3 separate regions of the Homo sapiens genome follow, and regions 1 and 2 are each linked to region 3. The links come from fine-mapping of genetic effects on gene expression. A gene starts in region 3. Each other region holds a variant in brackets. All regions are shown on one strand. Distances are between the middles of the regions.

Region 1 (8,178 bases), 110 kb before region 3:
AAAGAGAAATACTGCATATTCCCACTCATACGTGGATGTGAAAAGAGTTGATCTTCTAGAAGGAGAGAGTAGAATAGTAGTTACGAGAGGCGAGGAAGGATGGGGAGAGGGCTAGCCAAAGGTTGGCTAGTGGATACAAAAGTATGGCTAGATAGGACGAGTAAGTTCTAGGGTCCTAGAGCAGTATGGAACGACTGTAATTTACAATTTATTACGTTTTTCAAATAGCTGGAAGAGTGGAGTTTGAATGTTTCCAACACAAAGAAATAAATGTTTGAGATAGATATGCTAATTACCCTGATTTGTACACATTATACACTGTATGCATATATATTGTATCCATATATTTGTACAGATTACAGACTGTATACTTTGTACATAGTATACATTGTAGACATATTTATATGTATATACAGTGCATAAAATGTATTCTCTGTATGCATTTGTATACATTATGTATTGTATACATATATAGAAATATAACACTGTTCCCCATAAATATGTACAATTATTATGTGTCAGTTTAAAAATAATAAAAGCAGCTGGGCTTGGTGGCTCATGCCTATAATCCCAGTACTTTGGGAGGCCCAGGCAGGAGGATTGTTTGAGGCCAGGAGTTCAAGACCAGTCTGGGCACATAGTAAAACCCAGTTTCTACAAAAAAACAAACAAAAAAAATAGTTAGGCATGGTGGGGTGTACCTGCAGTCCCAGCTACTTGGGAGGCTTACATGAGAGGATCGCTTGAGCCAGGGAGGTCAAGGCTGCAGTGGTAGAAGTCCAGATTCCCTAGAAGTTGAAATAAAAGCATCTTTATTTTCAGATTCTTGACAGGTAACCACAAACTTTCTCTTTAAGTATAATCTCTCTGAAATACTGAATACTGGGTTATTTAATAGAACAGTCATAATGACCACAGATTAACCCTTCTAAGCAAAATAGATTAATTTATTTTGGCCTTGAAATGGTCTTTCTCTTATTAATGTGCTAGAATGTATTCATTCATTCACTGGATGAATACTTGAAGAGCACCTTCCTTGTGCCAGGAAGTACTACTCAAGGCACAGCGTGTACAGCACTGCTCAAAACAGACAGCTGCTCCTGGCCTTGTGGAGCTTGCATTCTAGCTGGAGAGGCAGGCAGTTAATACATCAGTAAGTCCTATTGATGAGAGAGCTCTGGAAATTCCTCCTTCCCCTAGCCTGGAGGCTCAGGCCACAGAATCTGCTAAGGTCTGAAGGTAGGGTAGGAGAACAGAGGTAATGACTGCAGCACTCTGGGCCTTGCAGTGAGAACAAGACAGTGACCATCCAATTGGGAAAGGGGCTGGAGAACTGAAAGAGACGCCCCCTCATAAAGCATGATGCTCAGAGCCTGCCAAATGCCAAAGACTGGGGACAGCAGAAAAAATGAGGCAGTTGCTCTGTGCCCCTGGATCCCAACTTCTGCTAAAGGCAGTGTTACGGTCTTGCCTTTAGAAGGCGTAAAAGCCTTTGGAAACCAATTCTATTCCTTTTCTTTTTTCTTTTCTTTTCTTTTTTTTTTTTTTTTGAGACAGTCCTGCTCTGTCGCCCAGGCTGGAGTACAGTGGCGCGATCTCTGGTCACTGCAACCTTCGCCTCCCAGGTTCAAGTGATTCTTGTGCCTCAGCCTCCCAAGTAGCTGGGACTACAGGTGCATGTCATCACACATCACATGTGGCTAATTTTTGTATTTTTAGTGGAGATGGGTTTTGCCATGTTGGCCAGGCTGGTCTTGAACTCCTGGCCTCAAGTGATCTGCCCGCCTCAGCCTTCCAAAGTGCTGGGATTACAGGCGTGAGCCACCCACTGTGCCTGGCCAGCCGTTGGGAACCAATTCTAATTAAAGCTACAACAAAGCTGTAGTTCATCTAAACTATTAACTCAGCCCCTGATAACAGAAGAGGCCACTAGATGATCAAGAGAGAAAACAGTCAATATAGTCAGACCCATGGATGGTCCATATTTACCTAGAAAGGCTAGATATAGTAGAAATATAGAGTACCTTTTATTATTATTGCTATTTTTATGTACTTATCTTTAAATATCTTGAAAAGTCTGCAGTAGCATTGTTCCTAAAGATCCAATCGTTCAGGTAAAAGTGGCCTTTAGTATGCAGTGAACCTTTATTGATATGTTTTTCATAACTTCTGTTACTTCTAGGGAGCCTTGCTTTATTTCTTTTCCATTGTCAACATTTTGGGTCTCCAGTACTGTGTTCCAGAATCAGCATTATTTAAGGGCCTTCGCTGAGCCCACTTGGGCTGTTTGATCCTGGACACTCGTTAATAATAATTAAGAGGCTTGGCTGGGTGCAGTGGCTCACACCTGTAATCCCAGCACTTTGGGAGGCCAAGGCAGGTGGATCACAAGGTCAGGAGATCGAGACAAGCCTGGCTAACACAGTGAAACCCCATCTCTACTAAAAATACAAAAAATGAGCCGGGCGTGGTGGCAGGCGCCTGTAGTCACAGCTACTGGGGAGGCTGAGGCAGGAGAATGGCGTGAGCCTGGTAGGCAGAGCTTGCAGTGAGCCGAGATCACACCACTGCACTCCAGCCAAGGCAACAGAGTGAGACTCCAACACAAATAAATAAATAAATAAATAATAATAATAATAATTAAGAGGCTTAATTATTGGGGTATATCCCTTTTATTGTAAAATATACATAATCTCCAGTTTACCATGTTAACTCCTTTTCAAGGCACAGTTCCCTGGCACCAAGCACATTCACACTGCTGTGTAGCCGTCAGCACCATCCACCTCCCGAACTCAGCTTCCCCAGCTGAAACTCCATCCCCATGAAACACGACCTCCACACTCCCCCTCCTCCTGGTAACCACTGTTCTCCTCTCTGTCTCTAGGATTTTGACTTCTCTGGGGACCTCACGTGAGTGGAATCACACAGGATTTGTCCTTTTGTGTCTGATTTATTTCACTGAGCATAATGTCAAGATTCATCCATCTCAATGAATTCTTTTTGTGTATTTATTTATTTATTTGTAGAGATGGAATCTTGCTATGTTGCCCAGGTTGGTCTCAAACTGCTGGCCTCAAGCTATCCATCCTCCTGCTTTGGCCTCCCAAGTTGTGGGGATTACAGACATGAGCCACTGCACCCAGCAGTGAACTTTTTTTTTTTTTGAGACAGTTTTGGTCTCATTGCCTATGCTGGAGTACAATGGCACGATCTTGGCTCACCGCAACCTCTGCCTCCTGGGTTCAAGTGATTCTCCTGCCTCAGCCTCCCAAGTAGCTGGGATTACAGGTGTGCGCCACCACGCCTGGCTAATTTAGGATTTTTAGTAGAGACGGGATTTCTCCATGTTGGTCAGGCTGGTCTTGAACTCCCAACCTCAGGTGATCTGCCTGCCTCGGCCTCCCAAAGTGCTGGGATTACAGACGTGAGCCACTGCGCCCGGCCTGATTTTATTACTATTTTTTAATATTACTGCTCCTTGTAGAACAGGGCTACCCCATAGGAGCATGCCCAGAATGGCCAGCAGTGAATTCTTATTCCGTATTCTGAATTCTATATTAAGTTAATTCTCCTTTTTTCTTTCCTTTTTTTTTTTTGAGACAGAGTCTCACTCTGTTGCCCAGGCTGGAGTGCAGTGGCGTGATCTCGGCTCACTGCAATCTCTGCCGCCGGGGCTCAAGTGATTCTTCTGCCTCAGCCTCCTGAGTAGCTGGGATTACAGGATTACAGGCATGTGCCACCATGCCTGGCTGATTTTTGTATTTTTAGTAGAGACGCAGTTTCACCGTGTTGGCCAGGCTGGTTGCAAACTTCTAACCTCAACTGATCCACCTGCCTCAGCCTCCCAAAGTGCTGGGATTCAGGCGTGAGCCACCACGCCCGGCCATTAAGTTAATTCTCAGTAGGTTGTTCTGTACTTTTCATTTGATTCACTGCATATTTTTGTTTTCCACATAGCCTTTATTTTATTTTTTAAAGTAGAGACAGGGCCTCACTAGGTTCCCCAGGCTGGTTTCAAGCTCCTGGGCTCAAGTGATCCTCCCGAGTCAGCCTCCCAAGTATTGGGATTCAGGTGTGAGCCACCACGCCTGCCCTCAAGTAGTATTTAAATCATTTTTGAATTCGGGACTGTTTCTGTCCCTCCAGCATTGGTTTCCTCCATTTTCCCTCACTGATCTCACTGCGTCTCTTTTCTCCGTCCCTATTTCTCTTATGCAGGAGTTCCCTACTTCAGTTTATGAGAGAGAAGCAGCATTTGCTGAGCATAGACGAGCCTCTCTTCCGGTCCTGGTTTAGTCTGCTACCTCTGAGTCACCTGGTTATGTATATGGAAAACTTCATTGAGCACCTGGGTCGTTTTCCTGCTCATATCCTGGACTGTCTTTCAGGGATTTACTACCGGCTTCCGGGACTTGAGCAAGTCTTGAATACGCAGGTTTGTGTCTGAAGTCGGCTCTGGAGTCCTGGCTTAGCAAAAGCAGACTAGATAACTAAACATGGAAAGCTCAGGATTCTTATTCCTAAAAAACAGACAGTGGGCTGGGTGCGGTGGCTCACGCCTGAATCCCAGCACTTTGGGAGGCCGAGGCGGGCAGATCACGAGGTCAGGAGATCGAGACCATCCTGGCTAACACAGTGAAACCCCGTCTCTACTAAAAATACAAAAAAATTAGCTGGGCGTGGTGGTGGGTACCTGTAGTCCCAGCTACTCAGGAGGCTGAGGCAGGAGAATGGTGTGAACCCGGGAGGCGGAGCTTGCAGTGAGCCGAGATCACGCCGCTGCACTCCAGCCTGGGTGACAGAG[C/T]GAGACTCCATCTCAAAAAAAAAAAAAAAAAGAAGGCGTCTCATGTGATGCACTTCGTAGCTGCCATTCTTCCTTTCACATTTTTTGGTGGAGAAAATGGTATAAGTTTAAATCCTGAGTTTTATCTGTAAAAGAGGTAAGATTAGTATGTGAGCACCTTAAAATTTGTTTGTAGGAAGAAAACAATGTATACCATATTGATGTTGGATTTTTTTCAGCTCTGTTTTAGCAATGACAGTGGCATTGTGATTCAATCTTTTGTCCTGTTTTTCTTTTTTTCTCTGCCTTAGGATGTTCAGGATGTTCAGAACGTTCAGAACATTTTAGAAATGCTGTTGCGACTCCTGGACACTTACCGGGACAAGTAAGTGGAAAGCACGATGCAGTCTCTCCCTCACATGCGGCCCCCGGGGGCTTCCTCTGACCCCTATAATTGGCCGTGACCCACATGTGCTGTTGTAACAGCAAGGTCATAAATTAATATGTGGCCCACTTCTCTTCTCAGGTTATTAATATTGTCGTCTGTTTTTTTTTTTTTTTTTTTGAGTCAGAGTCTTACTCTGTTGCCCAGGCTGGAGTGCAGTGACGCAATCTTAGCTCACTACAACTTCTATCTCCTGGTTCAAGTGATTCTCCTGTCTCAGCCTCCCGAGTAGCTGGGATTACAGGCGCACCCCACCACGCCCAGCTAATTTTTGTGTGTTGGTTTGTTTGTTTGTTTGTTTTTTTGAGATGGAGTCTCACTCTTGTTGCCCAAGCTGGAGTGCAATGGCACCATCTTGGCTCACTGCAACCTCTGCTTCCCAGGTTCAAGTGATTCTCCTTCCTCAGCCTCCTGAGTAGCTGGGATTACAGGCGCATGCCACCACGCCTGGCTAATTTTTGTATTTTTAGTAGAGATGGGGTTTCACCATGTTGGCCAGGCTGGTCTTGAACTTCTGACCTCAGGTGATCCGCCTGTCTGGGCCTCCCAAAGTGCTGGGATTACAGGCGTGAGCCACCATGCCTGGCCGTCTGTTTTTTTTTTTTTTTTTTTTTTAAAGGGAAATAATAGATATCAGCTGCTAAGATTTGGGTTTATCTCCCCCTGATCTTTTTTCCTATACATTTTTCCCTTACTTGTAAATAGTCATGATACTGCATATGCCTGGTGGGCGTTCTGCATTTTTTTAATACTTAGTCAGTTTAAGATAAAAATCAAAGGTAGCTTTATATAATTATCCAAAATCATTTGCTCCTGCAAATTTGTGACCTCTGATACCCTGAGGGGTCAGCAGACAGAATGCAGAACCACTGAAATGTGCCAGTGAGCGATGGGATGGGTGTTGTCTGAGCTGTTCTCTGAGCGGCTCGGGCACTTCCAGTCTTCGTTCACCTCCTTTGTTCACGTCTCTGCCGATGTTGATCCAGCACCTGTGACTTGAGGATCCCCCCCACAAGCTCCCTATCTCCCCACCACTGTGTGTCACATTCTCAGCCCAGGGAGTCCTTTCTTACACCGCCTTCCCAGTCCCCTCCATCAACTCTCCTCTTAAGCTCCTCCTAAGTGTCCTCTTAAGTCTCTCCTGAGTCCCCTCCTGAGTCCCTCCCAAGGCTCCTCCTGAGTCCCTCCTAAGCCTCCTTCTGAGTCCCTCCTAAGCCTCCTCCTAAGTCCCCTCCTGAGTCCCTCCTAAGGCTCCTCCCGAGTCCCTACCGAGTCCCTCCTAAGGCTCCTCCTAAGTCCCTGCTCTGTCCATGTGTCCCTCAGAAAACACAAAACCCAGGCCCGGCAGAGCTGGAGCCAATTCCACACGGGCTGCACGCTCTTCTACTATTTCTTTCTCTTCCTCCCTCCTTTCTGTTTCTTTCTGAATATTTTTTCAAATTTATGTCATATTTTAATGTCTAGTAATAAACATCCCTTGCCTTTTTTCACATCTTGGAACGCACTGAGGAGTGTTTGGACTTGCTTTGGTTAGAACAGTTGAGACTACAGAGACAAAACAAGAGGACTTTGCTTCCTTTTTATCTTAGTCACAAGTTCAGGACTGACTGAGATTTTCCAGACGTTAACCTAGATAAGGTCAAACAAATGCCCTGTTGGTAGTTATTTTGAAGGAAGGAGCTAGTCATCAATGGTAACCATTTTCTGGCTTCTCCTAAATCCTTGCCGGGATTTCTCTTAACTCTTTGCGGGGCAGGATTCCCGAGGAGGCCTTGTCACCATCCTACCTGACTGTGTGTCTGAAACTGCATGAAGCCATCTGCAGCAGCACAAAGCTACTTAAGTTTTACGAGCTGCCAGCCTTATCTGCCGAGATTGTCTGCAGAATGATTAGACTTCTATCTCTGGTGGTAAGTGGAGTCAACACACAAGGTATCACACCCGGGATAGGTGCGGAATTTCAAGCAGCCTCAATTTGGAAAGGAAACAGACTGATTCCCGGGTGCTGGGATGAGATGGAGCGGTGGTTTCAGCAGTGGACATTTCTTGTGCACCTGCTTGATGCTGGGTTCTGTTCTGGGTGTGGGGGGTGTCAGTGGGCCAGGGTCTGCCCTTCTGCCACCTTGGGCTTTCCTGGGAGGGAGGCAGGGAGTTAATGTGTGGCCATCAGCTGGTCATGGGGAAACCAGAGAGCTGGCGCAGGGGCTGGGGGTCAGGCAACGCCACGCGGAGAAGACGACTTTTCTTTTTTCTTGATTCTGTTGTTTGCAGAGAACTACGGGGACCATTTTCCTCCCAAAAAATACATGTCCAAACATGGTCTTTCCCACCTTCTTGACATTGTAGCTTGAATACAGTAACAAAGGCCATAGCGCCACACATCTGCCCCCCGCTGCATGTCGTGTCCCAGGTCTGATGGCAGGATGACCCGGCTCCTCCGTCCCAAAGAAAGCCACTGTTGTGACTTCTCCCATGGATCAGTTTTTTTTTTGTTTTTTGTTTTTTGTTTTTTAAGACGGGGTCTCACTCTGTCACCCAGGCTGGAGTGCAGTGGCGTGATCTCGGCTTACTGCAAGCTCCGCCTCCTGGGTTCACGCCATTCTCCTGTCTCAACCTCCCAAGTAGCTGGGACTACAGACGCCTGCCACCACGCCTGGCTAATTTTTGTATTTTTAGTAGAGATGGGGTTTCACCGTGTTAGCCAGGATGGTCTCGATCTCATGACCTCATGATCCGCCTGCCTTGGCCTCCAAAGTGCTGGGATTACAGGCTTAAACCACCACGCCCAGCCTCCCATGGATCAGTTTTACCTGTCTTCCAGCTTTGACCTTTCTGCCTCCGACTTTCCCCACTCACCCCCATGTCTCTGAGCTCTGTCTGTGTGGTGCAGAGATCGGCAATTCCTTCTTTCCCGTCTCTGTGCAGTTTTCACCCACTTGAGTTCATGAGT
Region 2 (8,178 bases), 39 kb before region 3:
TCGGAGCCTGAGGGAGGCCCAGGCAAGTCTTCTCTGCCTTGCTTTCCTTTGGGTTTAAAGACTCCGTTATTTAGAAATTCAGGAAGTATGGGAAACTAGTTCTTCGAATAGACTACTACTGGGCTTTTCTACATCCCCTCTCCCCTGGATGTGTTTCTGTGAATGCCTGTGGGTAGGTCCGATGCCCTCTGGTTGGCCTTGTGTCCTACAATAAATGCCCTAAGTCACCAGCCACTCACCCGCTTTCTCGTTGGCCTCTCAGAGATGGCCAAGGAGAAGCAGTGCTACCTGCAGCAAGTCAAGCAGTTCTGTATCCGGGTGGAGAACGACTGGCACCGGGTGTACCTGGTGCGGAAGCTCAGCAGCCAGCGGGGGATGGAGTTCGTGCAGGGCCTCTCCAAGCCCGGCCGCCCGCACCAGTGGGTGTTTCCCAAGGACGTTGTCAAGCAGCAGGTGAGAAGCGGGGCCGGGCAGCACACAAACATGCACCCCCACAGCCCCATACACCCCAAACCCACACACCCCCCTACCCTCACACCCTACCCCCCCCACACCCCACCCCCTCACACCTTCCCCACCACATACCCTCATACCCCCACACCTCACCCTCACACCCCCACACCTCACCCTCACACCCAGGGATGGTGCCACTGCTTCCGCGTTCCGCCTGCCCTTAGCATCCCCAGAGCCAGGAAGGAAACCTGCCGCTTGTCTGTCTGGTCCTTTGTCTCTGTGCTTCAGCTGATTTGCCCCAGCTTGTGATCATGTTTACACTGCCTGCTGTAGGGCCAAGGTGAGGGCACTCACCTCAGAGCTTCTTTAATTAGGCATCACTTCTAATTGAATTTCACTCAAGGAAAGTAGAACATTCTTGTGGCCTTTGCTTTCAGCGAATTAAACGTAGTTCAGCTTGCAAGGTGCGACCTTTTTACCTCTGGCAGGCAGAGACAGGCAAGAGCAAGAACTAGGAATAGAAGAATTGCAGAAGAGGCTTCAAGGCCAGGCTGGGCACAGTGGCTCTCACCTGTAATTCCAGCACTTTGGGAGGCCGAGGCAGGCGGATCACTTGTGGTCAGGAGTTTGTCAAGACCAGCCTGGCCAACATGGTGAAACCTTGTCTCTACTTCAAAGAAAAAAAAAATTAGCTGGACATGATGGTGGGTGCTTGTAATCCCAGCTAGTCGGGAGGCTGAGGCAGGAGAATCACTTGAACCCGGGAGGCAGAGGTTGCAGTGAGCCGAGATTGCACCACTGCACTCCAGCGCCTGGGCGATAGAGCGAGACTCCGTCTCAAAAAAAAAAAAAAAAAAAAGAGGCTTCAAGGCCTCTCAGTGGTCCTTTCCAGATACCCAGAAATTAACAAATTCTTATTGTCCAGGGGATACAAAAATGGTACTAAGAACCCCGGCACTGTTTGACTACCACCTGGGGTTTAGAGTTGACATGACTTGAGCCACCCGGCCTCAGGTGTGGTGCGGTGCGCCGCAAACGGAGGAAGCAAGCACCTCCCCAGGTAGCGCTGCCGTCGGCAGGCATTCCCTGCACTTGCACCTCTTCGTCTACTGAGGAGGAAGCTCCCTGCGAAGAGGGCACCAGACTGTCCTGCCTCAGGCCAGGTCAGGGAATCCCAGCTTGGCTGCCTTTAAACCTCGAATGATCAACCACCTGGTTCCTGTACCCGTTCAGACGGTTCTTTGCAAGACATTCCTCCCATTGTTCACCCCCAACTAACCTCTGTATTCCAGGGGCTGCGGCAGGACCACCCAGGCCAGATGGATAGGTACCTGGTGTACGGCGATGAATACAAGGCTCTCCGTGATGCTGTGGCCAAAGCTGTCCTCGAGTGCAAGCCACTGGGCATTAAGACTGCTCTGAAGGTAGGATGGGCCCGTGGCTTCTCTCTGATACCAGGTGGCATCCCTTGGAGCCTGCATGTTCCCTGGTTTATGTCAAATGATGCAGGGTGATGGACCACTGATGCAGCCCATCACGTGACACTGTATTGGAAGTCACGTGCCCACAGCCTCCAGGGCGCACCTGGCTAGTGTGCGTGAACCAGTGGCTGGAACAGGACAGCTATGACAGTTGAGCTGGGTTGACAGATTTGCTGTGTCTTGCTGATCTGCCAAGTCCATCAGCAGCGCCTTTTGATTTATGCCCATTACTTCCTTTGAGACCCTGCTGGAAAACAGTCTAAGAAAGATGCTGACACAACTATTAATAGCAAAATTCATACCTAGATGTATTCATAATTCAGATATGCATGTGTGTTTAATAAAAATACATATGTTGGTGTAGTGTGGGAAGTTAAAAAATATAAAGATGTTTTTAGAATCTAACCTTTAAATTGGTCTGGTCTTGCTTCCTTTTTGAGTCCCTGTGCCAGGAAAAGAGGAAATGGAAAATCCTCTTTCTGCTCAGAAGTTTCTAAGACCAGTGAAGGAGTCAGAAGAACAGATGGTGATTCCGTTGCTTCTGTCATTAAGCTGGCTGCTAAATATGCGTTGAGTTTAATCTGAGAGTATTTCAGGAACTTTGTAGCCCAAAAGTTGCTCGCCAGAAGACTGCCCATGTGGGGCATGACCCCAGGTGTCCAGGCCTGGAAAAGGCTCCTTCCCTTTTGGTGGGTTGAGGGCTGAGGCATGTGAAAAGTTTCTTTTCACATGCAAACTTCGTGGGCCTCTGGCCCTTAGGTAGATCTGGCAGGCAGCGGTGCGGGGGCGTCTATCCTATAATCCTAGCACTTTGGGAGGCCGAGGCATGCAGATCACAAGGTCAGGAGTTTGAGACCAGCCTGGCAAACATGGTGAAACCCCGTGTCTACTAAAAGAAAAAAAAAAAGAATTAGCCGGACATGGTTGCGTGTGCCTGTAGTCCCAGCTACTCGGGAGGCTGAGTTAGAATCGCTTGAACCCGAGAGGCAGAGGTTGCAGTGAGCCGAGATCATGCCACTGCACTCCAGCCTGGGTGACAGAGCAAGACTCCATCTCAAAAAAAAAAGATGTGTTGAGCTTTTAAATTCTTACTTGATACCCTTGATTTTGCAGGCCTGCAAGACCCCCCAAAGCCAGCAGTCAGCCTACTTCCTGTTAACACTGTTTAGAGAGGTGGCTATTTTGTACAGATCCCACAATGCAAGCCTCCACCCCACGCCAGAGGTGAGTAACCGCCTGCAGGGCTGTGTTCAAAGTCTCAGTATTTGGAGGGATTTTATTGAATAGAATGAAAGTTATCAACACAAATCATACCATAATTTTTTTATCTAGGATAGAGGTTCTCAACCTTGTTATGTGGAGGAACACATAACCAAGCTGTTTAACCCAAAGCTTGTAGAATTATAATGAAAACTAAAGCCAAGAACATAAGATAATGTTTAACAGAATAGAATATCAAAATTAATGCTTACGTATGTGGATGCTGTGTTTGTATATGCACAATTCTCTTCTCTGAAAAATTTCCCCCTCAAATGGTGGTGATTTCTCCATATTTACCTTGATATTTGATGTGTATTTGGTGTCAGTGTATGTCTAAGAGCAATTCACACAATATTCTTTGATACATCTTAATGTTAAGTTTTTTTCCTGTCAGCAATGTGAAGCTGTGAGCAAATTCATTGGCGAATGCAAGATCCTTTCACCTCCTGATATCAGCCGTTTTGCAACATCGCTCGTGGACAATTCTGTGCCATTGTTGAGGGCGGGGCCTAGTGACAGCAACCTTGATGGAACGGTGACAGAAATGGCCATTCATGCTGCAGCCGTCCTTCTGTGTGGACAGAATGAACTCTTGGAGCCCCTAAAGAATCTGGCCTTCTCCCCAGCCACCATGGCGGTAAGAGTAGGCCACAATTCCATCGGCCTTCACTGGAACACCCCCCAGAGCTTGTCACTGTAGAGACCGAGCTGCAGCTGTGGGAACTCTTGAGCATCTTTATCTCCTCAGTTCTCTGCCTTTGTGTCACCTGATTCTTGAGCACACAAGATAGTGACAGACTTGCCTTGCCCTTTGTTATTTCACAGGAAGCTGTTCTGTTTTCTTCACAGACAGCTTGAGAAGTCCAGCAGAAGGAAAGCAGAGTTCCCTTTCTTCCTCTAGGCCTCCTGCTGAGCAGCAGCACCCAGGTGACAAGCTCACTTATCTAGAGCTGTCTCTGTCTTCTTGTTTTTCAGCATGCTTTTCTTCCAACCATGCCTGAAGACTTGCTGGCTCAAGCTCGGAGGTGGAAGGGTCTGGAGCGAGTCCACTGGTACAGTAAGTGTTGGGGTCTAGATGACCCCACACTCCTTTGAGCTTCAAAGGGTGTCCAGATGCTATGAAGCATTGGGTTCGACTTGGGGTCCACGTGGTTTGTGCCTCAGGGTCCAAAACCACCTGCATTCTACCGGTGGCGTCTGCAGAAGACGAATGGCTTGAAGGAGCTGGCACTCCGCCGGCTAGATGATCCAAACCATTTCATTTCTTTGTCGTGTGGAAAAGGCCCTCTGTGATGCACTTCTGTTCTCTGGAATATGCCATTTTGGGAGAAGGGAGGGACTGGGAACCACATCAGAGACGCATTCAAAGGCCCACCACAAAACAAAGTTTTTGACACAAAGCTCTTCTGAAATATATGAAATATAGAACCGGGAGACTGACTCATATAACCCATGACATGTAAATTTTGCTGTTGCCTGAGTAAATATTTTAAAACTAGTTTTTAAAGTTGTTATAAAATATGCTCATGACAAAAAAAAAAAAATCAAGGAAAATAGAAAGGTCTAGAATCCTGTCCACCTTGCCTCCAAAAGTACCCCTGGTATGGGCCTATATTCTAATTGCTCTTTACTTGATAAAATTAATAAAATTAGACTCAGAC[A/G]TTTTTCACTGACAACATACATTTATTAAGCTTCAGGCAGGTGTCATGTAACTTAACAAATTAGCGTGGGATGCTCTGGACAGTCATTCTCATATTGTGGTCAGGGCCAGAGAGTAGAGAGTTAGCTTTCCCTTTTCAATGTGGGTCATTGGGTGAAACCTCATTAGCCAATGTGTGTCCTGTTCTCTTCACAGCTTGTCCCAACGGCCATCCTTGCTCCGTGGGAGAGGTGAGTCTTGGTATTTAAGATAGGGTTTGAGGGGTGGCGTGCACTCCTGGGTTGGAGGAGGGGGATCGTGGGTCAGGAGAGTGAGGCTCTCGGCCTTCCAGGAGAGCACAGGCTCACCGAGGACTGCCCAGGGTGCTCTGAGCAGGGCAATGCCAATGGCGCTAAGGGTTTCTAGCCCAGGGCTTCTCAGACTCAGCACTGTGGACGTGGCTCTGCGGCGTGGGCTGTCCTGTGCACTGCAGGCTGTCTGGCAGTATGCCTGACCTCGAGTCCCTGGATGCCAGGAGCACCCACTCCTCCCAGTGTGACAGCTAAAACCAGACATTGACAAAGGTCCCCTAGGAAAGAAAATTGCTACTGGTTGGGAACTGCTGCTAGCCATTCTTTCTAGCCACTGCAGCATGGGGTCAGTGAGCCTTGTCTTGATAGAATGGCAAGGTGTTGCCTGGACCACAGGCTGCATTATTAGCCCTCAGAGGAGGTGTGGTCCAGATGCCAAAGGAAAAAGCCACGTGTAGGCTGTGCGCCATGGGGGAAGAACTGTTGATTATTCCTCTCTGGATTCCCAAGCATCTAGCCTAGAGCCCTCCATACACAGTATCTGTACTTGCTGAGCAAGAGGCTGGTGGGTTGAGCTGACACGTGGTAGTTAGTTATTAGTATTACTTACTTGGTTGAGATATGTCTGGCTCTCTTACCCAGGCTGGAGTGCAGAGTGACATGATCATAGCTCACTATAAACATTGAACTCCTGGGCTCAAGCGATCCTCCCGCCTCGGCCTCCCAAAGTGTTGGGATTATGAGCCACTGTGCCCAGCCTGATACACGTCATTTAATAATGTATATAAGAGATACGGAGGGAGAAAAACTGTTACATACACTTCATTTTTCTGAGCTTCAATCACTTCCTTGTCCATGAAATGAGGACGCTGAAATAGAGTCTATCCAAGAATGCTCCCAGCTCTGAAATTCTGTAACTGGTTTGGTGTGTTATCAGCCGTGACTCTCAGTATATTGTGGCACAATATCTGATTTTGAAAAATAAGCCTTTGGAAGTAGATTATGTGATTAGATTTTTTTAAATAAAAAAGTCCAAGCCAGGTGTGGTAGGTCACACCTGTAATCCCAGCACTTCAGGAGGCTGAGGCAGGTGGATTGCTAGATCCCAGGAGTTTGAGACTGGCCCGGGCAACATGTTGAAACCCCGTCTCTACAAAAAAACACAAAGCATCAGCAGGGCATGGTGGTGCATGCGTGCATGCGTGCATGCGTGTGGTCCCAGCTACTTGGGAGGCTAAGGTAGGAGGATTGCTTGAGCCTGGGGAGGTCAAGGCTGTAGTGAGCCGTGATGGTGCCACTGCACTCCAGCCTGGAGGACAGAGCGAGGCTCTGTCTCATAAAAATTGATATATGAAAAAGTCCAAATGAATATAAGGAAGTCAGTTTGGAAGCTCTTCTAGTATTCTTGGTATTAGATCATGAAGTGCCACAGGCTAGTGTGATAGATGGAGGGATGGAAAAAGTGCTGAATACAAGAAAGGAAGGTTGAATTTTATATATTTGTCTATAAAGTGTCACTCTGGGAATAAAGCTTAAATTGTCTCACTTATTTAAAAAACAGTTCCAGTTTGCCCACGTGCAACATTAGTGAGTACCTACCCTGTTCCCATGGGTTCTCCACCCACCCGAAACAAGCACACACTGGGACAATCTGAGGGTGCTCACGTCTGCCGGTGATAAGGAGGTGTTCATTTGCATGATGGCATTTGTGCATAAAATGGTACTGCTCCAGAAGTGGTTCTAGTGCCCTGTCTTCACCCTAGTGTGGCAGGCCGATGGAACAGAGCATCTGCATTGACTGCCATGCGCCGATTGGAGGCATTGACCACAAACCTCGGGACGGCTTTCATCTGGTCAAGTATGTGGGTCAGGATTCTATTTCCTAAGTACTCAAACTTTGGGGTGTTGGGCTGTTTTTATTCCAGCTGATAAAGTGATACTCAAGATAGTACTAATTACTCCAGTACATGTGGGCCTGTGTCATATTGAATAGCAATGCCAAAGTCCCAGCAGTCACACAGCAGGGAGGCATCTGATCTGTTGTTGGATCCCTGGGCCCTGAAATGCAAAGCAGGCTACCCTTTAACAGCTGTTAATATGAATACAGGTGTCTTCCTTTTGGGCCTTGGGTGCACCTTCTGTAGAAATATGCATGACATAAACAGATGATCTAATTCACGAGGACATCTATGTCTGCAGGACCAAAACCTGGGCATCCGTCTGTCTCAGCAGATGCCATCTCACTTGCCAGCAATCTTAGCTTTCTCCATTTTTTATTTTTTGAGAAAAATGAAGGAGACAGACATAGTCTTATGAAATACCAGACTTCAGAATCCAGGTACAAATCCGATCCCACAATCCCATGCTGAGATGAATGTGGTTCTAAATGCTCCTTTCAGAGAGTGAGTGGGACCTGCGTGGGGGCCTCACATTCTGACTGTTCCCTGCAGTCACAGCTTAAAATACTTTCATGTTATCTCCAGAAACTGTCACAGTGTCCTCCATCCTCTAATAGTTTTGCCACTGAGAGCATCGGCCACACTGCATCTCCTCTCTGCCGGACTTTAGATCCCGGTTTTTCCTTTGGGGAGATGAGAACAATATGGACACCCATGGGATGCCGACTGTCCTCCCAAACTCTAGCTGTTCTTAGCCCAACCGCTCCTCTCCTGACAAAGACTTCAGTGGAAAAGACGGGTCCAGGCCTGCGTCTTAACACCCTGCCCGGGGATCAGCATCAATACCACACAGCGCAGCCACCTGACGCTGAGAATGCGGTCGGGTCTGGTCCACCGGAAAGGCGAGTCTATCATGAGAGAGACTCTTAGGAACATGGTCCAGGCTTTGTGGAACAGCAAGTACTCTTCACATAACTCTCTTCTCAGCCGTAAGCCTCACTCCAAGTGCTGAGAAAGTGCAGCGTGCCAAAGCGGCCAGCCTCAGCCTCTGTCTTGTGTTCTCTCGTTCTTTCCAGAGACAAGGCAGACAGAACGCAGACCGGCCACGTGCTGGGCAACCCGCAGCGGAGAGACGT
Region 3 (8,178 bases):
CCAACCTGATGTGTGTTATGACCTGAGTCTCCCATGACCACAGCTTTTGAAATAAGATTAAGGACTGAGGACTGGTAGGGACTCATAAACGATACGAGTAAAGTGTTAGCCAAAATGAAAGAAAAAGGGGTGCCCAAACAAGTCACTTTAAAGTTTGATGCCTGTGCTGTCATTAATAGTAATAAGTTAAAAATAGAATGTGGTTCCCTTAATTAGAAAAGAGGCCATATGACAAAAAATAAGTACATTTGTCATAAATTAAAACTGTGTGGAAATAAATGTAAATACTGGTCTTGTGTCATTTAGGCTACTTAAATAAAAAATAAAAAGGATCCTGTCCACCTTCAAAAAGGAAAAAGTGGCCCTTCCTGTACCAGTGGTCAGTGTAACCCCTTAGAACTAGTAATAACCAACCCCCTTGATCCTCGCTGGAAAAAAGGGGAGCATGTAACCCTAGGAATCAATGGGGCTGAACTGGATCCTTGAGTAAATATCATGGTTTGAGGAGAAATTTATAAACGCTCTCCTGAGACAGTATTTCAAACCTTCTATGATCAACTGAATGTGCCTGCACCAGAAATTCCAGGAAAAACAAGACATTTGTTTTTGCAATTAGCCGAGCATGTGGCCCAGTCTCTCAATGTCACTTCATGTTATGTGTGTGGACGAACTGTAATGGGAGATCAATGGCCACGGGAAGCCCGAGAATTAGTACCTACAGACCCAGTTCCTGATGAATTCCCGGCTCAAAAGAATCACCCTGATAACTTCTGGGTCCTAAAAGCCTCAATCATTAGACAATACTGTATATAGCAAGAGTGGGGAAGGACTTCACCTTTCCTGTGGGAAGACTCAGCTGCTTAGGCAAAAACTGTATAATACTACTACAAAAACAGCCACCTAGTGGAGTTCAAACCACACTAAGAAAAATCCATTTAGTAAATTCCCAAAGTTGCAAACTGTGTGAACCCACCCGGAGTCCCACAGGGACTGGACAGCCCCCACTGGATTATACTGGATATGTAGGCATAGAGTTTACACCAAATTACCCGACCAGTGGGCAGGTAGTCATGTTATTGGCACTATTAAACCATCTTTCTTCCTACTGCCCATAAAGACAGGCGAACTCCTGGGCTTCCCTGTCTGTGCTTCCCGCAAAAAGAGAAGCATAGCTATAAAAAATTCAAAAGATAATACATGGCCCCCTGAAAGAATCATACAATATTATGGGCCTGGTACTTAGGCACAAGATGGCTCCTAGGGATACCCGACCCCCATTTACATGCTCAACCGAATCATACGGTTACAAGCTGTCTTAGAAATAATCACTAATAAGACCGGCAGAGCCTTGACTATTCTGGCCTGGCAAGAAACTCAGATGAGAAATGCTATCTATCAAAATAGATTGGCTCTCGACTACTTGCTAGCAGCTGAAGGAGAGGTCTGTAAAAAATTTAACCTTACTAATTGCTGTCTACACATAGATGATCGAGGGCAATTAGTTGAAGACACAGTTAGAAATATGACAAAACTGGCACATGTGCCCGTGCAAGTGTGGCATGGATTTGGTCCTGGGGCCATGTTTGGAAAATGGTTCCCAGCACTAAAAAGATTTAAAACTCTTATATTAGGAGTTACAATAGCAATAGAAACCTGCGTTCTGCTCCCTTGTTTGCTACCCATACTTCTTCAAATGATAAAAAGCTTCATCGCTACCTTAGTTCACCAAAATGCTTCAGCACAACTGTACTATATGAATCACTATCGATCTGTCTTGCAAGAAAACATAGGTAGTAAAAATAAAAGTGACAACTCCCACTACTGAGTGAGATTCTCAGAGAGGGAGAATAAGGGAGACCACCCCTCATATTGTTTTACGCCCAATTTCTGCCTCCAAAGAGAGAAGTAAAAACTAAAAGGCAGAAATGAAATCCACAAGCAGACAGCCTGCACCACACCCTGGGCCTGGTAGTTAAAGATCGACGCCTGACCTAATCAGTGATGCTATCTATAGATTACAGACGTTATATAGAAAAGCACCGTGAAAATCCCTGTCCTGTTCTGTTCCGTTCTAATTACGGGTGCATGCAGCCCCCAGTCACGTACCCCCTGCTTGCTCAATCAATCACGACCCTCTCACGCAGACCCCTGAAGAGTTGTGAGCCCTTAAAAGGGACAGGAATTGCTCACTCGGGGAGCTCGGTTGTTGGAGACGTGAGTCTTGCCGAAGCTCCCAGCTGAATAAAGCCCTTCTTTAACTCGGTGTCTGAGGGGTTTTGTCTGCGGCTTGTCCTGCTACACTCTGGTGGGAAAGACACCGCAGCAGGGGAGCAGGGTGCGCAGGGTGCAGTGGGTGACGCTCATTCGCTGAAAACTGACCCTGCTTTCAAAGCCTTGTCAGTTCCCAAAGCTGTATGAAGCCTTTCCTGAGCCTCAACCTCTAGAGTCTAATTTCATCCTCTGTATTTTCCCCTTTGTTAGTCCAAACTGCGTCATTTTGTAAGCCCCTTTCCATTTTGTAGACCTTGGTCAAAGTGAAACATTCCACGGGGGTTCGAGCCATGAGAAACAGCCTGCCTCTTAACATATTCTGCTGGGACAAAGCGCCAGGAACACCACATTCTGCCGGAACCACCTCATCCTGGGAACACGTTAACATCTTCCCGGACAGCAAGCCATACTGCCTAGATCCCTCCTGCCCAGGCCTATGAGTACCCCAGCCTGTAATCGCTGGTGGGCTCTGGCATTAAGCTGGCCCCCGACAGGTGTTTGCAATACACCTGTGTTGCTGTAGAGCCGCCCGCGCGCCGGCAATCTCACTGTGCGTCATTCTTTAACCTTCACCTTCCCTTCAAAACCTAACACCCTTGACGTTTATATTCAGGCTATTATATATACATACACACATACACCCTTCTGAATCCTCCCAGGAGAATATAAAACCATGGGTTAAACTGCTACACTTCAGCTTCAGTGGCTGCCTTTCAGTGCTTCAAATACACCAACCTCTTTCCCACCCCGGGACCTGCACGAGAAAGCTGCTCCACTCACCCGCCGTGCTCTTTCACTCACCCTTCAGGTGTCTTCAATATCGCCTCTCAGGCCTTTCCCAACCACCGGTTTAAAGTCGGCTCCCCACAAATAAATACATATTCTCCCTCACAGTACTTCGCACAACACCTGGCACAGCGAGAGCACTGAACCAACACTCATTCAATGAGGAACACGAGGTAAGAACCAAGACCCCCCAAGGTCGCCGTACTTTGTCTGGTAGGAGAAGCTTTCTGCCCAGCAAGGTCCGACCCAGATGAAACCCCGTCCAAGTCTGCAGCACCCCCGTGAGTCCAGCCCGCTAAACTGTGAAGAATTTAAATACACGACACCTGCCCTCAAAAGCTTGAGGGCACCCCTGAGCTGCCATCGAGGTGGGGGCGTCAACGACAGGCGCTCAGTAAGTGCTCCTGAGGCAACTGCCGGGCTGTCCTGGACCTGGTGAATCCTTTCGGGGTTCAGCAAAGGCGGACGCTGACCGGGCCAAGGAGTGGGACCTGCAGTGCTGGACCACCCTTTTCCAAGCGCAGAAGTGCCGTGCCCGCCGGCTCTCAACAGGGCAAGAGGCCCCTCTCGCCGTGCAGAGCGCAGCGCTTGCGGCGGGGACAGCAGAGGCGGGACGGGCGTCACGGAGTTCCCGGGTCCTCGCGCGGTCACTTACCTGGCCTCAGCTATCCGCTGAAAAAGGGGCGGACGGCCTCCCGGGATCCGAGCCGATATCGCGCGCGGCGCCGCGGGGCAACCTGAAGCCGTGTGCGTGCGTGTGCGTTCACGCAGGGGCTCACCCAGCGGCCACGGGCTTCTGAAGACCCGGGTGGGAAGTGCGGCCCGGGAAAGCGCAAGCGTCTCCATGGCAACGAGGGCGGACGGCGTCAGAGCGAGTCGCTTCCGGAAGTGACGTGCGGAAGGGGTGCCCGGGACGAAGCCATGGCCCTGGAGGCGGCGGGAGGGCCGCCGGAGGAAACGCTGTCACTGTGGAAACGGTAATGCTGTCAGGCGACGCGCAGGAGGCGGGGGCCGAGGCCGGGCGGCCCTTCGCGGACCCTCCGAGCTCATAGTCTTCAGGCTGTGGAATCGGAGCTGCCACCGCCCGAGACTCCAAAGCAAAGCCCAGTTTCCGGCGCGGAAGCGGAGGGATCTCAGGAATTGTAGTCCGCGGGGTGGGCGCGGTTCTCGCTTCCGGCCAGTTTGTCTGGCCTGCGCTTGCGCGGGTCTCCGCCGCCTGGGCTCCTAGGGACTGTGGCCTCGGCGGTATGTCCCTTGCTTTCCCTTGAAGCGGGAGAAGACCCGGCAGAGGCGCTCTGTCCGCTGCAGCCGCGCGGGTGGAGGAGGCAGAGTCTGAGGTGTGACCCCGACCAAGTTTGACGCTTCTGTCCTCCTAGGGAGCAAGCTCGGCTGAAGGCCCACGTCGTAGACCGGGACACCGAGGCGTGGCAGCGAGACCCCGCCTTCTCGGGTCTGCAGAGGGTCGGGGGCGTTGACGTGTCCTTCGTGAAAGGGGACAGTGTCCGCGCTTGTGCTTCCCTGGTGGTGCTCAGCTTCCCTGAGCTCGAGGTAACCTGGGAGGACGCCGAGCTCGAGGCGGGCCCCTCGGTGGGCTCGGGCGTGCGGTCTCCGGGACAGGGAGCAGTGCAAGCGTAGAACCCGGCTTCTCGTTTTGTAGGATGTCATTAATAGTCTGGGGAGTTGGCCGGGCGCGGTGGCTCACGCCTGCAATCCCAGCACTTTGGGAGGCTGAGGCGGGGGAATCACCTGAGGTCGGGAGTTCGAGACCAGCCTGACCAACATGGAGAAACCCGGTCTCTACTAAAAATACAAAATTAGACGGGTGTGGTGGCATATACCTGTAATCCCAGCTACTCGGAAGGCTGAGGCGGGAGAATCGCTTGAACCCGGGAGGCGGAGGTTGCGGTGAGCCAACATCACGCCATTGCACTCCAGCCTCGGCAACAAGAGCGAAACTCCATCTCAAAAAAAAAAAAAAAAAAAAAAAGTCTGGGGAGTCTTGGAAGGGAAAAAAAGGCAAAAATTAAGGGAATTCTGTGACTATTAAGAATCAGCTCATGAGCTTTATCTTCAAGTCTGATTGTTATCTTGGGTTCTTCATCTCAGTGACCTGTCCACCACGCTCCCAGTTGCCCAAGCTGGAGATCTGCATCCTCCTGGGCCCCTCCGTTCCTCTCGCGTCCAGTTGCACACTAGCTCGCTTTTATTCTGCCTCTTAAATGTCGCTGGAATCTGTCCCCTTGTCTGTTTCCCCTCTGCTCCTTCCCTGGCTGTGCCACCATCACTCCTGTGGGTTCCTGAGCAGCATTTTCATGGGTGCCCTGGCTCAAATGTTCCTCCTCAGTGGTTTCTTTTCCATACTGCCAGCAGACCAATTTTCCTAAAAAGCAAGTATTTTCCTCAAAAGCAACAAGTCCCCTCCCTCCCTCCCTCCCTCCCTTCCTTCCTTCCTTCCTTCCTCCCTTCCTTCCTCTCTCTGTCTCTCTTTCCTTCCTTTCCCCTTCCCCCACTCTGTGCCCAGGCTGAAGTGCAGTGGCATAATCTTGGCTCACTGTCAAGATCTGATCTCAACCTCCTGGACTCAAGTGATCCTCCCACCTTAGCCTGAGTAGCTAGGACCACAGGTGTGAGCCACTACACCCGGCTTATTTTTTTATTTTTTGTAGAGACAGGATCTCACTATGTTGCCCAGGGTGGTCTCCAGCTCCTGGGCTCAAGGGATCCTCCTACCTTGGCCTCCCCAAGTGCTGAGATTACAGGTGGGAACCACCACACCCAGCCCACAAGTCCTCTTAGAACATTGAAGTGCCCTTCTCATGACCTCATGGTGAATAAAGTTCACTCTGGTTGGCATGGCTTCAAGGCCCGTCATGACCTGTCCCCTGCGTAATTTAATATGACGCTGGAGGCTCAGCCCTCACCACTATTCTCAGTTCTTCCCACCTCCTACAGCCCACTGTGAGTCCCTCACGTGTTTGCTACGCTGTATTTGGCGGCCTGACCTTTGCAGTAATGTTTCTTCTGGAAGGGTTTCCATCTGGCTAACTACTACTCATCTCTTTGGGCTCAGTTTAGACATGACGTCCTCCACTAAGCTCCCTCTCATCCCACAAGACGAGGACTTGTCCCTCAGCACCATGTCTTAGTCCGTTTGGGCTGCTGTAATAGAATACCTTAGACTGGGTGGCCTACCCACAGCAGGAATTTATTTCTCACAGTTCTGGAGGCTGGAGGCTCAAGATCAGGGTGCCAGCGCAATCAGGTTGTGGTGACGGCGCTCTTTCAGGTTGCACAGGGCCAGCTTCTTAACCGTGTTCTCACATGGTGATCCACTCACCTCCCTAGAGGCCCCACCTCGTAATACCATCACCTATGGGTTATAATTTCAACATAGGAATTTGGGGAGGACACCAGCATTTAGACCGTAGCAACCCTCTGCTTCCTCTTGTCTTGCTGGGATGGAACTGGCCTGTCTTCCCTACTGGAATATAAACTCCATGATGGTAGAAACCATGTTGCTTTGCCCACCATGGATAGCATGAGGAAGACGCTGGACTCTTCCTTCAAGAGATACGTGTGTGAATGGACAGTGGGCTCATGATTCACATAAGAGTCAACAGCTCCGGAAGCCTCTTGGCGTCACTCGCATTGCTCCTCTGCTGACTCCCGAAGGTGACAAACGTCTTCCTGCTTCCATGGCTTTGTGCTTTACTTGGGAGGCCCTTTTCAGTCCAAATCAAGCAAAAATGTACTGAGTGCCTACTGTGTGCTAAGATTGGGATATTCAGCAGCCCCTACTCTAAGAGGTCCCCTGGCCATTGTGTAGGCTAGCATAGGGAGTGGGGACACAGTCTTAGGGTCCTGACTACTCATGCTCACACCCAACTCTGCCACTCCCCACTTTGCCCTCTAGGCCTCTGTCTCCTTTTTTCTGACTTGAGGATGATAGTGGTATTAATATCCAGCTCACAGAATTGTGATGAGCAGTACATGAAATGCATGGAAAGCAGTTAACACAGCATTCCCTTCCCCCTCCAACTTCTCCTGGCTGCAAATTAATCACCTCATCTGCATCCTGGGCCTCTTTTGAATGCACATGCTGTTAGAGCGCTTCTCACATTGTATTAAAGTTAGTCATTTATGATTCCATTTTTCCCACTGACTGTAGGTTCTCAAGAGTAGGGTGTACCATATTTCTTTTACAACCCCAGCACCAAGCAAAGCACCTGCTACTTCGTCGGTATTCATTGTTCCGGCTATGAAAGCTTAGACTAGGAAAGGATCTTGGAACAGTCTGGTCCACTGGTTCCTGAATGCCCGACCGTGGACCTGCAGGAGCAGAATCACCCAGAAGTGTGTTGAGAAACAGATTCCGTAGGCACATCCACAGAGACAGAAAGTGGATCCTTGGGCCTTGGAGTTGGGGTGGGATGGATGGGAAGTGACTGCTGATGAGGATGAGGTTTATTTAGGGGTTAAGGAAAATGTTCTAAAGTTAGATTGTAGTGATATTGCACAACTCTGTAAATACCAAAACCATCGCATTATATGTTTTAAACAAGTGAACTTTATGGTATGTTAATTGTATCTCAGTAAACCTGTTAGGAAAAAAAACAGGCCGGGCGCAGTGGTTCATGCCTGTAATCCCAGCACTTTGGGAGGCTGAGGCGGCTGGATCACGAGGTCAGGCGATCGAGACCATCCTGGCTAACACGGTGAAACCCTGTGTCTACTAAAAATACAAAAAAAATCAGCCGGGCATGGTGGCGGGCACCTGTAGTCCCAGCTACTCGGGAGGCTGAGGCAGGAGAATGGCGTGAACCTGGGAGGCGGAGCTTGCAGTGAGCCGAGATCGCGTCAGTGCACTCCAGCCTGAGCAACAGAGCAGGACTCTGTCAAAAAAAAAAAAAAAAAAACAGATTCCAGAGCCCTACCCCACTTACTGGGGGAAAAACTCTCCCAGAGTATAGCATAAGAATCTGCTTTTTAAAATAAGCTTTCCTGTGATTCTGAAGCAGAGCTGGGCTGGAGAACCACTGGCCTGCTTTTCCCACCGTGAAGAACACTGTCCTTAGCATCCCTGACAAACGATGGCGGAGCCCGTTCTGTGCCAGATGCTGA

Which allele goes with the higher level. Positions count from the first base shown, and alleles are read on the strand shown. Sizes are in standard deviations (SD) of each study's normalised expression. Not every link is listed here.
For the expression in gastroesophageal junction of the gene that starts at base 3,951 in region 3, A is the high allele of the variant in region 2 and G is the other (moderate effect, 0.45 SD a copy in GTEx).

What was found. PIP is the estimated chance that this variant, and not a neighbour inherited with it, causes the effect.
Region 1: its variant is the best candidate, but not a certain one, in a credible set for the expression of ENDOV in whole blood (TOPMed, PIP 0.78).
Region 2: its variant is the best candidate, but not a certain one, in a credible set for the expression of ENDOV in gastroesophageal junction (GTEx, PIP 0.70).

Annotation. Positions count from the first base shown.
Region 1 is chr17:80,302,034-80,310,211 of GRCh38, forward strand. RNF213 (ring finger protein 213) reads left to right here. Exons shown (of 68, transcript NM_001256071.3): 12 at 4,219-4,435; 13 at 5,095-5,168; 14 at 6,985-7,138. Among named protein-coding and RNA genes, the nearest start is that of RNF213, 45 kb to the left of the region's middle. The variant C/T (reference allele first, on the strand shown) is at 4,805.
Region 2 is chr17:80,372,713-80,380,890 of GRCh38, forward strand. RNF213 (ring finger protein 213) reads left to right here. Exons shown (of 68, transcript NM_001256071.3): 48 at 1-22; 49 at 263-453; 50 at 1,746-1,877; 51 at 3,048-3,158; 52 at 3,589-3,831; 53 at 4,170-4,251; 54 at 5,050-5,084; 55 at 6,908-7,002; 56 at 8,119-8,178. All of the region lies in intron 1 of RNF213-AS1 (RNF213 antisense RNA 1), which reads right to left. Among named protein-coding and RNA genes, the nearest start is that of ENDOV, 38 kb to the right of the region's middle. RefSeq lists enhancers at 1-255, 7,610-8,110 and a silencer at 3,844-4,044. The variant A/G (reference allele first, on the strand shown) is at 4,856.
Region 3 is chr17:80,411,217-80,419,394 of GRCh38, forward strand. ENDOV (endonuclease V) reads left to right here and starts at 3,951. Exons shown (of 10, transcript NM_173627.5): 1 at 3,951-4,034; 2 at 4,434-4,605. The coding sequence starts at 3,979. RNF213-AS1 (RNF213 antisense RNA 1) reads right to left here and starts at 3,952. Exons shown (of 2, transcript NR_029376.1): 1 at 3,713-3,952. RefSeq lists an enhancer at 4,384-4,473.